3 separate regions of the Homo sapiens genome follow, and all the other regions are linked to region 1. The links come from fine-mapping of genetic effects on gene expression. A gene starts in region 1. Each other region holds a variant in brackets. All regions are shown on one strand. Distances are from middle to middle.

What was found.
Region 2: its variant is fine-mapped to the expression of ARHGAP1 in whole blood (INTERVAL, PIP 0.92).
Region 3: its variant is fine-mapped to the expression of ARHGAP1 in whole blood (TOPMed, PIP 0.93).

The regions. Positions count from the first base shown.
Region 1 is chr11:46,698,338-46,703,559 of GRCh38, forward strand. ARHGAP1 (Rho GTPase activating protein 1) reads right to left here and starts at 2,282. Exons shown (of 13, transcript NM_004308.5): 1 at 2,214-2,282. It overlaps ZNF408 (zinc finger protein 408), which reads left to right and starts at 2,694. Exons shown (of 5, transcript NM_024741.3): 1 at 2,694-2,762; 2 at 3,062-3,339; 3 at 4,367-4,428; 4 at 4,647-4,906. The coding sequence starts at 2,711. RefSeq lists a silencer at 2,038-2,157 and an enhancer at 2,488-2,777.
Region 2 is chr11:47,040,498-47,045,719 of GRCh38, forward strand. The region is part of intron 2 of CSTPP1 (centriolar satellite-associated tubulin polyglutamylase complex regulator 1); the gene reads left to right. It also overlaps the pseudogene LOC112268075. Among named protein-coding and RNA genes, the nearest start is that of CSTPP1, 110 kb to the left of the region's middle. The variant G/A (reference allele first, on the strand shown) is at 3,024.
Region 3 is chr11:46,668,641-46,673,857 of GRCh38, forward strand. It overlaps ATG13 (autophagy related 13), which reads left to right. Exons shown (of 19, transcript NM_001346311.2): 17 at 154-270; 18 at 764-892; 19 at 3,615-5,217. The coding sequence ends at 3,692. Among named protein-coding and RNA genes, the nearest start is that of ARHGAP1, 29 kb to the right of the region's middle. The variant C/T (reference allele first, on the strand shown) is at 2,499.

The sequences.
Region 1 (5,222 bases):
ATGCCTGTAATCCTAGCACTTTGGGAGCCCAAGGTGGGTGGGTCACCAGAGGTCAGGAGTTCAAGACCAGCCTTGCCAACATGGTGAAACCCCATCTCTACTAAAAGTACAAAAAAAAAAAATAGCCAGGCATGGTGGTGGGTGCCTGTAATCCCAGCTACTCAGGTGGCTGAGGCAGGAGAATCACTTGAACCCAGGGGGTGGAGGTTGCAGTGAGCTGAGATCAAGCTACTTCACTCCAGCCTGGGCAAAAGAGCAAAACTCTGTTTCAAAAAAAAAAAAAAAAGGAGCAGCTGGGAGCTGGGGTGGATGTGAAGGAGGGAGAAGGACACCATCTAAAAGGGAGCTGAACTTGAACTTCACCTCTTTTCCAGTGACTGCTCTTCTATGCTGTCAGTTCTTCCAGACATGACCTCCCTCAACGCCCCCACATAACCTCCTTTCCCAGCATAACTAAGCCCAGTGGTTCCCATCTCCCAGTCAGACTGGCCCCTCCCACTACCCCCAACCCACAGTTTAACTTCTGAGCCTGGAAGTTAAACTCCCATTCAGTGGGAGGGTGAGGAAGCTAGCACAGGGAAATTCTAACATCAAGTAGTAGAAATGAAGTATCCTGCCTGTTTAAGACACCAGCCACCCACAAGCCTGCTCTACTCTGTGCAAAATACACCCAACTCTGAGATTAATTTTTCCATTCTCAGCAGGTAAACCTTTACAAAAATCTTAAGGATCACCTTAGGCAATCACTTTTAGGAAGTTGTAGACTTTTCTGAAATTGGTAACATGTGTGGACTTTTTCCCTAAGAAAACTTAGGAGATGTATGCAATTTTAAGAGGTTCATACACCTTCTGAGAATCACTGTTTAAGAACTTCTGGTCTATTCAGAATGACACCTGATATATAGTAGATGCTATCATTTGTTGAATGAATGAACCAATTAATTCATCTCCTAAGTAAAGAAGGGAACCCACACTTGTTGAGGGCCTATATAGGACCATGAACTGGGGACACAAACTCAACCTCACGATAGCACTGATGAGGCATGTTCTACTAAGCTCATTTTACAGTGAGGAAAGAGAGGACCAGCCGGGCACGGTGGTTCACGGCTGTAATCCCAGCACTTTGGGAGGCCGAGGCGGGCGGATCACAAGGTCAGGATTTGGAGACCAACCTGGCCAAGATGGTGAAACCCCATCTCTACTAAAAATACAAAAATTAGCCGGGTGTGGTGGCGCGCGCCTGTACTCCCAGCTACCTGGGAGGCTGAGGCAGAAGAATCGCTTGAACCCGGGAGGCGGAGGTTGCAGTGAGCCGAGATCACGCCACTGCACTCCAGCCTGGGCGACAGAGTGAGACTCCGTCTAAAAAAAAAAAAAGAAAAGAAATCATATTCTCAACGTTGGAATCGGCCTCCCAGTTGCAAATCCCACCACAATACAACAGCAATTACAACTCTCAACTACAATTATGTTTGCATAGAGCTTCACGGTTTACAAAGCCCAGGTTACGTTTTGCAATTATCCTGTTTCACAGATTAAGAAGTTGAACTGAGGCCGGGCGCAGTGGCTCACGTCTATAATCCCAGCACTTTGGGAGGCGGGGGCGGGAGGATCACGAGGTCAGGAGTTCGAGACCAGCCTGGCCAACATGGTGAAACCCTGTCTCTACTAAAAATACAAAAATTAGCCGGGCGTGGTGGCGGACGCCTGTAATCCCAGCTACTCAGGAGGCTGAGGCAGGAGAATCGCTTGAATCCGGGAGGCGGAGGTTGCAGTGAACCGAGACTCCAGCCTGGGCAATAAGAGTGAAACTCCGTCTTAAAAAAATAAATAAGTTGAACTGAAAGCGTGGCCTAATAAGTGGCAAGGAGGAACACTTCCCCCAAATTTCTTCTTCTTAGTGCTTTGCCAGATCAGATCTGGGAGATTTCCCCCTCCCGCCGGCTTGCTGGATGACAGCGATCCGGCCTGGACTCTGCCCTGGGGAAGGCAGGAAGAAGGTAGTGAAAATGATTAAGTCCTCTTATTGCAGGCGCCAAAATGGGGCAGAAACCCTGCAGGAAGGCCAGGCCTCTGAGCCCAGTTCCACCCCCGTTCCCCTCCTCGGATCTGCTCCGGTCCTCCCCATCCGGACCCCATCCCTTCGGACGACCTGGCCAGCTCCTTTCCTTTCCCCATCCCCACCCGGGGAGACCCCGCGCCCAGCAGCTCACCGCGCTCGGGCACTGCTCCCTCTGCCACGCCTGTCAAGGCTCGGCAAACATCCGGCTCCGCGGTGGAACGGGAACCGCCCCCTCCCGCTCTCTTCTATCCCCAACCATTTCCGCCACACCTCCAACCCACTTCCGGCCCCAAACATGGCCTTTCCAGGAGCCCCGCCCACTTCCTGCACATGCCCGCCTAAGTTCCTGCCTCGGGGAGGTAACAGCATAACTGTCCGACTCGTCGCTCCCAAAGAGATGGCTGGAACAATTAGTTCCGCTTTCCCAGCTAGTCGAATCACTGGTGCACCTCCGGAATCCGAGGTTCGCATTGCTCTCGGACAGAGTTCTGCCTCCCCAGTACTCCCAAACTCCCAGTCCTGTGCACCAATGAGGTCCAGCTCTGAGGCTTCTTTCCTGAGAAAAAAATTTGGAAGTCCGTGACTGTTTCCTGGAGGAGCTGAGAAGAGGAAGCTCACTTCCGGCGTAGGGAGGCTTTCTGACCCGGAATGGAGGAGGCGGAGGAGCTGCTCTTGGAGGGGAAGAAGGCGCTGCAACTCGGTGAGTGACCTGCGATGTCCGCGACCCTCAACCTTGGCCCAGGTGGATCTGACGCTCTGTGGTCAGCTTTCTCCTCAGTCTTCTCTCCTCCGGATCCCAGGATCCTCCAGTGCCCTCAGAGTCGCTGGGGGCTTCTGAAGAGCCCTTGAGCCTCCTCAAAACTTTCAGGGCCCTCCTTAGAGCCCTCACCTGTCCCTCGGGCTCCGCAGGCCCACCTGGACCTGCGGTTTCCTCCCACACTTTTCCCCACCTCCCACCTTCTTGGGTGGCTCCCTCACTGTCTTCCCTTCTCTCTGCAGCCCGCGAGCCGCGCCTGGGCCTGGACTTAGGATGGAACCCTTCCGGAGAAGGCTGTACGCAGGGCCTCAAAGACGTCCCACCCGAGCCGACCCGAGACATCCTCGCTTTAAAGAGCCTTCCCCGGGGCTTGGCCCTTGGCCCCTCACTCGCCAAGGAACAGCGCTTGGGGGTCTGGTGTGTCGGGGACCCCCTGCAGCCCGGCCTGCTGTGGGGGCCGCTGGAAGAGGAGTCTGCCTCCAAGGAGAAGGGCGAGGGAGTAAAGCCACGGCAGGAGGAGGTATTGAAGGATAGAGCGACTTCCCTCCGCCCTTGAAAATGTAGGGGAGGTTTGGACATTGCTAGACAGCTTTTCAATTTGAAGAAAGAGAGTATTTCAAGAGATAGGAGATAGTCTTGTCCCTTCTCTTCAGGACTGTCTCCTCTCAGCAGCAGTAGTTAAAGAATCGAGGTTTGAAAAGTTGTTGAAAGCTGGAATCATACAGTGTCAGCAGTGAGTGAGGAAGGTCAAGAGCTAAGGTTTTTGGAATTAAGAAAGCATGGGATCAAATTCCAGCTTTGTCACCTAGCTGGTTAAATTACGTGCCGCATTTAATTCATCTGTGAAACAAAGCAGTGGCTCTCTTGGGATTATATGGAGGAGCTGATGAAATAGTGAAGATAAAAGGTTTCACTGCACAATAAGTACCATTTTATTTTATTTATTTTTCTTTTTTCTTAGACAGTCTTGCTTTGTCGCCCAGGCTGGAGTGCAGTGGCACGATCTCGCCTTATTGCAACCTCCACTTCCCAGGTTCAAGTGATTCTCATGCCTCAGCCTCCCGAGTAGCTGGGATTACAGATGTGCACCACCACACCCAGCTAATTTTTGTATTTTTAGTAGAGACAGGGTTTCACCATGTTGGTGAGGCTGGTCTCAAACTCCTGGCCTCAAGTAATCCGCCTGCCTGGGCCTCCCAAAGTGCTGAGATTACAGGTGTGAGCCCCCGCGCCTGGCCCAATAAATACCATTTTAAAAAGCTGGTGTTCCTTATTACTTTTTCTGTTTAGTACTCACTGGAAGACAGTAATGTGTTCAATTTAGTAATTCTCCATACCCTTGGGAGGGAGGTGAGGAGACAGACTTTTTGGTCCTTACTGAATGAAGAATCAGACAGCACTGTCCTGTTAGAGGAGAACCAGAGGCTTCTAACCTTCCAGGAGTTTCATCTTAAATTTGTCCCAGGAAAGTTTCATCTAGTTTCTTTTTTTATTCCTACCCGACCCCTCGAACACATTTGAGAAGGACTTTTGTTGGTTTATTTCAGAACCTGTCATTAGGCCCATGGGGAGACGTGTGTGCCTGTGAGCAGAGTTCTGGCTGGACTAGGTAAGTCAGAGGAGAGTGTGTCGTTCCTTTGAGGTTTTCTGTTGTGGTTTGGGATGGAACCCGGTGCTGACTGTCATTTCCTATTCAGTGCTCTTTTGCAGTGAATGTTCCAAAGGCACGGCGTCCTTTAGGACCCAGACTGCTTGGGGACTGGGGCTTTCGGGGAAGACCACTTGAATAGTGAGCATCTCCTAGCTGGCTGTTACTTTGCTTTGCAGCTTGGTACAACGGGGCAGGCTGGAGAGTGAGGGAAATGTGGCCCCAGTGCGGATCAGCGAGAGGCTTCATCTGCAAGTGTACCAGCTGGTGCTGCCAGGCTCTGAACTGCTGCTGTGGCCCCAGCCTTCCTCTGAGGGCCCAAGTCTCACCCAGCCTGGGCTGGACAAAGAGGCAGCTGTAGCAGTGGTGACAGAAGTGGAGTCTGCTGTACAGCAGGAAGTGGCCTCCCCTGGGGAGGATGCAGCAGAACCTTGCATAGGTATGTGTCAAATAAATGCTGGTTTCCCAGCAATTTCCCCACCAAAACAACCTGTTGATAAGACAAAGCAGAGTTTATGGCTCATTGCGGTAAGGAAGGACACTATAGAGTCTTAGTAGCTTTTCAAAATCTGTTTTAAGGTGGATCTTTCAACATGGGATAGGAGGGTGGGGCTTGATTAGTATTGGGTAAGGATTATGACTGAATAGCTTAGGGTTGGTACATACAGCAAGGCTAGAATTTTCAGGCAAGGGACAGTCTCAGACTATGAATTGTCATTCATTGCTTTCTGTTGAAGAGCGACGGGTCTGTTCTT
Region 2 (5,222 bases), 340 kb after region 1:
AAAGAGACATGGAGCCAGCAAATGAAACATAAGGTTTTTTGAGGGGATTTACATACAGGGCAGTCCAGGGGCAGCATGCTGAACAGGAGAACTGCTACCACTTATAAAAAAGCATGCAGTTTATACAGCATTTTCACTTAGCCCCTCGACCCCGGCAATCTCCACCTGGCAACCTTCATCCAACCCAAAACAAAGGGCCTCGAACCCCTGTATGGCCTGTGATCCATGGGATGGATCAGATGGTTCAGATGTTCCTCATAGATAAAGAATGAATCTCTGGGTTGGCCATTCCCAAATTCCTTCACTCAGAACTCTGAACACACATTCATCTTAGACCACAGGGTCATTCTCAGGGTATGCTTCAATTATTTATGACAGGTGCATCTACCATACACCTGCTCCCCAAGTGGCTCCCTTGTACTATGGCAGCGGTGGTGGGGAGGGATTTGTGTAAACTCTGCCCTGGAGGGTGGGGAAGGTGAAGGTTGGATGTAAAATGGCAGCAGCTGGGGCTGGCAGTGGTGCTGCTGGGTGCTACAGGGCTTGTAGGGTTCCATAAAGAGGGCTGAGAAGGTGTTGACTTTGTCTGCCCCCTGCACCTCATGGGGAAACAGTGGCAGTTTCACAGTGCAAAAGTCTTTATAAGTGTTCTCCGTCTGGTTCAGATACTTGGCCTGGATCTTGTGTCAGGCCTCACATATCTTTCAGGATTTTCAGGGTTGGGGAAGAGAAGCTGGGTGATGATGATGTTGTATGTGTCAATCTTGTACTTGGCCAGCTCCTGGATCAGTCACTCTGTCTCATACAGGGATAGAACTCAGGGATATATTCGCAGATGATACAGGTAATCTACTCAGGGCCCTTGAACTGTTTGCTGACAAAGTAGATGATGGACAGTGTCTACTTCAGCATGGAGGACAGCACGTCTGTGTTCATGTCCCCAAGACCTAGAACGTTGCATGTCTGTAAGATAAAGGGGCTGATCTGGTTCTTGATCTGCTGAGTGTCATGTCAACCACCACCACTGAGAAGTTCATGCCCTTCACCAGCCTCATGACCTCAGCATAGCTCATGGCCTCATTGATGCCGGGAAAGGCGCTCATGGCTTCCTGCATCAACTTCTTGCTCATGCTCAGCATGTTTTCCTTCTCAAAGAACTCACTGGGCAGCTATGCTGCACCCTGGCTGGGGTCAATTTCCACAGTGAAGAGGTTGTCAGAGCCTTTGACCTTGGTAGGCACCTTTGAGAACTTCTGGTCAAAACCATCTGAGATGTTGTGGGCTAGGTCTGTGGAGATGATCAGAATACTTTCATGCCCTTTTGATAGCTGGATGGCCAGGCTGCAACTGCAAGTGGTCTTTCCCATGCCACCTTTGCGCCAGCAAGGATCCACTTAACTTAAGGCTGCATTTCTCAATGATGTTGCTAAACCTAGGCTCCAGTGGCTCTTGGAGGCTGACTTTGGGAGACTGAGGTGGAAGGATCACTTGAAGCCAGGAGTTTGAGATCGGCCTGGAAGTGAGACCCCATCTCTACAAAAAAAAATTTTTTTAAATAGACAAGCATGATTGTGTGTGCTTGTAGTCCCAGCTACTCAGGAGGCTGAGGTGGGAGGATCACTTGAGCTCAGGAGTTCAAGGCTACAGTGAGCTATGATTGCATCACTGCATTCCAGCCTGGGCAACAGAGCAAGTCCCTGTCCAAAAAAATAAAAAATAAAATAAAGAAAGAGAGGAAGGAAGGAAGGATGGATGGATGGAAGAAAGATTTCATTATTTTTAGGGAATATTTTTAGGAATTCCTTATTTCCTAATTTTTATTTATCTTGCTCAGCACTTTGACTTCTGTTTTTTTTTTTTTTTTGAAATACTGTAGGAGTAAACAAGCGTCACGTCTATAACTTACTCTTAAATAGTTCCAAAAAATGATAATATGTATATACATATGTACTTATATGTCTGTGTGTGTGTGTGAGAGAGAGAGAGAGAAAAGAGAGTGAGTGAGAGTAAATGTAGCAAAATATTCACATTTGAGTAATCCAGGTAAAGGATATTCAGGAATTCTTTGTGCTATTATAACTTTTTGGTAAATTTGAAATTACAATATGTCAAAATTTTTAAAAATTAAAATCTTCAAGGAAAAACTTCAACAACTTAAAGAATAAAAAAAATTGCTCAATGAAATTTGAATACTCGTTTTGGCAAAATCTGTTTATGGCAGACATATGGTGTACTTCTGTATGGCCTTTAAGATATTTTTAGGAACTTTTTTGTTTTACTTTAGAGGAAAGATTAATGTCTATTAAAGAACTTTGTAGTTTAGTCAAATACAATGAAAAATTAGTGCAAATATGCATTTTTAAGCTTGGTAGGTCAAATGTTTGTTTTGGATTTCTGGTCATGATGGCTTGCAGTGTTCATGACTTGGGCCTCTTATTCATTTCATACACATGGTAATGATACATAAAATTTTCTAAGATTTTTAAGGACATAGCCATGTATAAAATTAATATAAATTCATCTGACTAGGAACTCACTAAACCACAATGCAGTAAGTGGGACTGTAACCACATGCCTCCTGTGCTCTGGATTCAGAAGGCGTAGGTAACTGAAAGCTCATTTCTTGAATGGTGGAGACTCAAAATGTTATACACACAGTGCAGGAGACTGGAGCTAGCCCCTTTTGCCTCCACCACTTTAAGAAAGACTCAAAAAAAGTTATGACTGCTACCTGAGAAATGGCTTACATAAAACCTGGAGGTTTAGCCAGGTGCGGTGGTGCACACCTGTAGCCCCAGCTGTTTGGAAAGCTGAGGCAGGAGAATCCCTTGAGCCAGGAGTTTGAGACCAGCCTGGGCAACATAGTGAGACCCCGTCTATTAAAAAAACAAAAACCTTGAGGTGTGGGAGGAAGCAGACAGCCTTACAGCCAGGTCTTAGTGGTCCAACCTCCTTAGGGGTACAGTGACAATCTGTATGATATCCCTAATATCAGGAATGGAGCCATAAGCCATCCAATACAA[G/A]ACCTGGTTCTGGACTAGGGTCTGTCCACAAGAGAGAGTAGAAACCTCCCACTTCACATGAACTTATACGCTGAAATTCTAAAATACATGAGGAACACTGATGTTGAGAAAGATAGTCAATAAACCCAATAAACATAAATTTACTCCAGAGAAAACAAAAATAGTTGAACATTTAAAACTGACTTTGAGGCCAGGTTGAGGTGGCTCACACCTGTAATCCTGGCATTTTCAGAGGCCAAAGTGGGTGGATCACTTGAGCCCAGGAGTTTGAGACCAGCCTGGGCAACATGGCGAAACCCTGTCTCTACAATCCTGTCTCTAGATATAAAAAGGCATGGTGGCATGCGCCTGTAGATTCAGCTACTTGGGAGGCACTTATTATCTTTAAATTATTCATTCTCTATTCTGTCTGGTCAGCCTGAATAATGCAGGTTCTACAATGTATCTACCATGTAGGTTTATTTTTATTTATTTATTTATTTTTGAGATGGAGTCTCGCTCTGTCACCCAGGCTGGAGTGTAGTGGCGTGATCTCGGCTCACTGCAACCTCTGCCTCCCAGGTTCAACCAATTCTCCTGCCTCAGCCTCCCAAGTAGCTGGGATTACAGGCATGCACCATCACGCCTGGCTAATTTTTTTGTGTTTTTAGTAGAGACAGGGTTTCACCATATTGGCCAGGCTGGTCACAAATTCCTGACCTTGTGACCCACCCGCCTCGACCTCCCAAAATGCTGGGATTACAGGTGTGAGCCACCGCTCCTGGACAGTTTATTTTTATTTATCTTACTCAGCACTTTGACTTCTGTTTTGTTTTTTGTTGTTGTTGTTAGTTCTGGAAAATTCTCAGCCAATATATATACATGTGTATTTCTTGAGATAGGATCTCACATTATTGCCCAGGCTGGAGCGCAGTCACGTGAATCTTGCAGAATTGTAGAATCTGCATTACTTAGGCTGAACAGACAGAATAGAGAATGAATAATTTAAAAGATAATAACATAAAGAGATAAAAAACTATGAAGACAGGTAAGAGGCATTAAAAAGCTACAATGTATATCTAATAGGAAACAGAAGAAAATGATATAGGGAATGGCAAAGAAGCAATATTTTAAAAAGAATTGGGGGGTGCAGTGACTCACATCTATAATTCTAGTACTTTGGGAGGCTGAGGCAGGAGGATTGCTTGAGGACCAGCCTGAGCAACATAGCGAGCTCCCATCTCTACAAAAAAATTAAGTTTAGCCAGGCATGGTTGTGTGCACCTGTAGTCCCAGCTACTCAGGAAGCTGAGGTGGGAGGATCACTTGAACCCAGGAGTTCAAGCTTCTAGTGAGCTATGGTCATGCTACTGCACTCCAGCCTGGGCAACAAAGTGAGATCCTGTCTCAAAAAATGTATATGTGGGCTGAGAATTTTCCTGAACTGACAAAAAACAGAAGTCAGTTTAAAGTACTGAGCAAGATAAATAAAAATAAACCTACATGGTAGATACATTGTAGAATCTGCATTAATGATAAAGAAAATTGTTTATATGAATTATAAGAATGATTAACTCCAAAGGAATGGCAGGAGTTTGACAGCAGTTTGCTTGATATCAGTGATAGGTGCGAGGTGACAACTGGGTGGTATCTTTAAAGTGCTGAGAGAAGATAAGTAACAACCAGAATTCTCCACTGAATTAAATTTCACTCCAGAAGGTAAAATAAAGATATTTTGAGGTAGATGAAAACTGAGAGCATTTACCACTCACAGGCTTTTGCTGAAAGAACTACAGGTTTATGTATATTAATAAATTTCACAATTCAAAAAAAGCTTTGAAAACCTGAAGTTGTCCTTTGGTAAGTTTTCAGCAACCTCATTTGTGGGGCAAACTTGACCTAAACTAGTTCATGGGCTAATTTTGGTCTTTGTTTATCCCACTTAGTGTGAATACTTATATGTTTCACTGTGGAGACTTTAATATGTTTGAATCCATGGGGTGCTATCCCAACCCTGCTGAAGGTGTTATATCACATCTGGTTTGTGCAACCTTTATAAAATCTCAAAATTTGTCACTTCCAAACCAGAAAGGTCCCAGGATTTCAGATAAGTGATTATGGATCTTATTAAAGGATTATGGATCTTATTTCTTTAGCAAGAAATAATTGAACCAAGAGTGAAGGAGCAGAATGTGGGAAACAGTAGTGAGCATGAAAATT
Region 3 (5,217 bases), 30 kb before region 1:
AGAGTCACTAATCCCCCACAGACTATAAACCATGGCCCCTCGGCTTACGGGTTTGTAGCCAGCATTAAGTTCTTCCCAGAATTTTCAGATTGTTTACAGTAACTTGAATCTGGGTCACAGCATCAGCCCTAATCCTGCCTTGCTATGAAACAGGTGAATCCTCCAGATTCCCCAGAGACTGAATCTCCTCTCCAGGGCAGCCTGCACTCAGATGGCTCCAGCGGGGGCAGCAGTGGCAATACCCATGATGACTTTGTTATGATAGACTTTGTAAGTCGCCGTCACCTTCCTTGACCTTTGCTGTCCCGGGGAACTAGACCTAGAAGCATCTACTGCACTTGATCCAGATTTCCTTCATAGGGATCAGATGTGCTGGTGTAGACAGAAGGGATGGACAGGTGGAGTCTGGTCTGGGGAGACATTTTGGAGGCCGATAAACAACAAGGCATTTTTTGTCATGCCTTTGGTTAAAATTCATAATGAAATTCAACTCTAAATGGAGATTTTCCACTGATACCCACTTAGGTCCTATTCGTGGCTAGGCAAGGAGTTTGAAGGAGTGGGACATAAACTTAACTAGTGGAGAGGAATATTATCACCAGCATTAGAAGTGAACAGTCTGGGAGAGAAAAGTGTAAAGATTTCTCTCCCTAAGATAAGCCTGAAAGAACCTTTTGATAATTGCTAGAAGGAAAGACTTGTTCATAGCTTATCTCCTCTGTGGTTCAAGGCAAGCTAAACTGACTCTGTCTTGTTTTTGAAGAAACCAGCTTTTTCTAAAGATGACATTCTTCCGATGGACCTGGGGACCTTCTATCGGGAGTTTCAGAACCCACCTCAGCTGAGCAGCCTCTCCATAGATATTGGAGCACAGTCCATGGCTGAAGACTTGGTATGGAAACGTCTTCCTCTACCACAGTGCATCCTTATTTGATGGTCATTCCTTTGCCAAAGGCCTAGGAGGCCTACCACCTTCTATCTTCCCTGTAATAGGAAAGAGACATAATTAGAAAATTATCTTTTGATCACTCTTGAGATTGGCATTGTGCCCAGCAGTCATTATCTGGAATTTGCTTGAGCTTGGTTCCTTCTTTCTCTGCACATTCTCAGCATTACTTACATGCTCCTGTTGTTCTGTGCCTGACGTCTTCTCCTTGCAGATGCCACTAGGCCAAGTTGCTCTAACAGCCATTGCATTAGCTATTTAGCTTTCCAGGCAGATGCCAGTGGTACTGGGCAGAGGAGATTGTGAGGTCCTGAGTATCTGTGTTCTTGCTCTTTCCTCAGAGAGCTCACTCCGTCATCTAGCAGTTCTCACACTTGACCAGATGTCCTGATACTGATTATAATGACCCCATCTCTGCTTAGGGCATTTCCTCTTCCTGCCTCTGAGGGGCAGAAGAGTGCCCCGCACAAGCCACAAACTGGGTGCCCCATGCCAGGAGATGTCCCTCTTTGAGGTGGAATGATCACCTCCTAAATAGATATTAAGATCCTATGGTAGCTGCCCTGGATTTGCTTTAAGGAGAAAAGCATGCCCAGTAATAACAATACAGTAATAGCCAGGTGCAGTGGCTCACGCCTGTAATCCCAGCACTTTGGGAGGCCAAGGCAGGCAGATCACAAGGTCAGGAGTTCGAGACCAGCCTGGCCAACATGGTGAAACCCCGTCTCTACTAAAAATACAAAAATTAGCCAGGCATGGTGGCGGGCACCTGTAATCCCAGCCACTCGGGAGGCAGAGGCAGGAGAATCACTTGAACTTGGGAGGTGGGGGTTGCAGTGAGCCAAGATTGGATCACTGCACTCCAACCCGGGTGACAGAGTGAGACTCCATCTCAAAAAAAAAAAAAAAAAGTAATAATTACTACTACCAAGACCTTTTGGGCCAGGCACAGTGGCTCACACCTGTAATCTCAGCACTTTGGGAGGCTGAGGAGGCCTTCACTTGAACTCAGGAGTTTAAGACCAGCCTGAGCAACATGGTGAAACCCTGTCTCTACAAAAAGTACAAAAAATTAGCTGGGCGTGGTGGCATCCGTCTGTAGTTCCAGCTGCCTTGGGAGGTGGAGGCAGGAGGATTGCTTGCTTGAGCTGGGGAAGTCAATGCTGGAGTGAGCCATGTTTGCGCCACTGCCTCTAGCCTAGGTGACAGAGTGAGACCCTGTCTCAAAAACAAATAAATAAATAAATAAAAATCAAGGCTTTTTGAGTGCCAGGCATTTTTCTAAGTGTTTTACATGAATCTTCAACAGCCCTAAGAGGTAAGTTTTCTCATCCCAGTTTACAGATGAGAAAACCAACAATGATTAGCTTGCTCATAGTCACACAGACCCAGGCAAAACAAAGCTTTGCTTGATCTTAGAGGATCTGGTTCCTCAATTTAGCCTTTTAACCACTAAACTCCCTTGCCTATCATGACATGCACTTGGAAGAAAGTGTGGCTCCAATTCTCTCAACTGATGCCACAGCCGTAGCCAGTTCTGAGGCCTCCCTCT[C/T]CTTTCAGGAAGCTGCACCCAAACCACCCTCAGCTGTTGGTGTCTCCAGGCCACATTAAAAACTCTGAGGCAAGAGACTCTCCACGCTCCCTTGTGGTCGTGTTTAAACCCCTACTGGCAGGAAATTGTGATGGTGAAACTCTGCAGATGCAGCTTCTGTTCATTTAGTCATCAGTAGAGACGCATTTTTATTAATAGTTGATACTCTAGGACAGTTAAACTTCTCACAGTTCTGTTTTCCTCTGCTTCTGTCTTTACCATTCTCTCTCAATCTCTAACTCACCCCTTCCTCAGCTGGTATAAAGATAACAGATTCTGGCCGGGTGCAGTGGCTCATGCCTGTAATCCCAGCACTTTGGGAGGCCGAGGCGGGTGGATCACAACATCAGGAGTTCAAGACCAGCCTGGGCAACATGGTGAAACCCTGTCTCTACTAAAAATACAAAAAATTAGCTGGGCTTGGTGACGGGCGCCTCAGGAGGCTACTCAAGCTACTCAGGAGGCTGAGGCAGAGAATTGCTTGAACTCGGGAGGCGGAGGTTGCAGTGAGCTGAGATCACACCACAGCACTCCAGCCTGGGTGACAGAGCGAGACTCTGTCTCAAGAAAAAAATTTAAAAATACAGATTCCTAGGCCTTACCACAGACCTGCTACTGTGTCAGAATGTCAGTAGTATAGTGGGGCCACCTGGTTCACATTCCCCCCAGGGGGTCCCGATGCCCAGCAAAGGGTGTGAAGAAATCTTTTGTAAACTGTTTAATTTGTAGAGCTGTACACTTGGTATTTTATTCTAGTGTCAGTCAGATCTGTGCCAGGGATATTTCATGTTTAATTTCTGAATCATCTTGCTCTTGTGGTCCTTTTCTCTTTTGTTAAGTGTGTGGCCCACTTGGACTCCCAAGGCCGTTCCATTAATCCTCCAGCCCCTGCAAAGCCCTGATGCATATACCCCTCCCTACCCTGTGCCTACGCAGCTGCCCTGCGTTCTCCCACTTGCTCGGCCCAGCTAGGGCTGAGCTTCGTCTTGCTTGCTGCCTCCCCTCTTCGGGACTGGGCTGGCTGCCTCCTCAAGGCCCTGCCTGAATAAACGGCTCTTCCCTCTCTTTCCGGTACAGGACTCATTACCAGAGAAGCTGGCTGTGCATGAGAAGAATGTCCGCGAGTTTGATGCCTTTGTGGAAACCCTGCAGTAAAAGTATCCTTGAGTCCCAGCAGCACCCCCTTTTTGTGGCCCCAGGGCATAAGCAGCCTCCCATGCATCAGCTGCTCCCACCCCTCATCCTGCTCTGAGCCAGGTGGAAGGGAGGCTGGCTTCTCCCATGGGGACCCAGAAGTCCCTACTCTTGGACCTCCTGGAGACTCCGTGGCGGCAGTCAAGCCCAGTGCCCAGTTGGAGAAGACTCACGTGCTGGCCTTGGAGATGGGAAGAACCTTCGTACGAAAAAGCCCTCAGCAGGGCCATCTGTGTGCCCTGCCCATCACCAACTGCTTCCCAAGGGTGTCATCCTGTTCCTCCTGCTGCCGGCCTCCTGCCTGGGCCTGCCTTGCAGCTGGCCCCTTCCCTGCCTGCTGTCACCATCCACTGTTTGACATTCCAGCTGGTGGCCAAGAGATTGGTGTGGAGTCGCAGAAAGAGGAAGGAGACAGTGCCAGGAGGAAGAAGGAAGGAGTCCCTTAGCTCTCTTCATTGTCCCCTTTACTTCCTGCTATCTTCTTCTCCTCTTCTTCTCTCTCTTGCCTCTATGCCTGTATTTCTGGCAATATGACAGGCCTGCCTACCCAAGATCAGAACTCCAAAACCACTCCCACCCCTGAAGGTCGGGAGGGTCTGAGCAGCCCTGGTGGCTGCCTGTGCTCAGGTCCTCAGCTCCATGGGAAATAAAAATGGCACCCTGAATCTCTAGGATTTTGTCACTTGGAGTCACAGCAAAGTTCTCTTCCTCTTGTCCCCCCGTTGCTGCTCCTTGGTTATAGAACATGGTAAATATTTATTACTTTCAGAGAAACCAGATATTTTATAGAGGAAATATGTTTGAGGTGAGTTGTTTTTCACTTGGAGAAGGCGGAGGGCTCTTCCTGGGACGGAGACCTCCTCCTCCGGAGGTTATTGAGAATCCGGGCTGCTGCTTTGAGGATCTTCCCACCATACAGACAGCGAGATCCAAGAAGAGGGCTGGCCGGGGGCAAAGTCACCTCCCAGTGTGGCTGCACTGGAACTGACTAAAGGCTTTACCTTGGATAGTTGCGTATTCCTGGTGAGAGCCTTACATCTCCCACAGTTTCTGCAGAGTGACTGACTCCATTCTGGCAGCCCAGGAAGTCCTGGGTGCTAAATGTGATGGCCACATGTAGTGGTTAGGGGATGTTGTGTGTGTCCCCCAACTGCCTGGGTACTTGTTCCTGATCCCTGGGGCTGTCCTGTGGAGCTTTTCCTCCTGCTTGGGCCTAGCTACCATCTCCCTCTAATCCCAGGTTCTCTACACTGCCCTGGGGTTTACCAGCTGGATTGGCTTCTGGTTGAGAAATCAAAGCTGGGCGTATGATTGACTTAACCCTTCAGGTATTGTTACTTGAATAAGTCAAGTGCCTAGCCTCACCCACCTATGATCTGTCCTTTCCCAGCCTCGCTGGTAGTCCTGGTCAAGGAGATCTAGGTCTACTCCATTCCTCCTGGCCCACCTGGGGCATTCACTGGCAGCAGCTGTGCTTCAGTGGAGC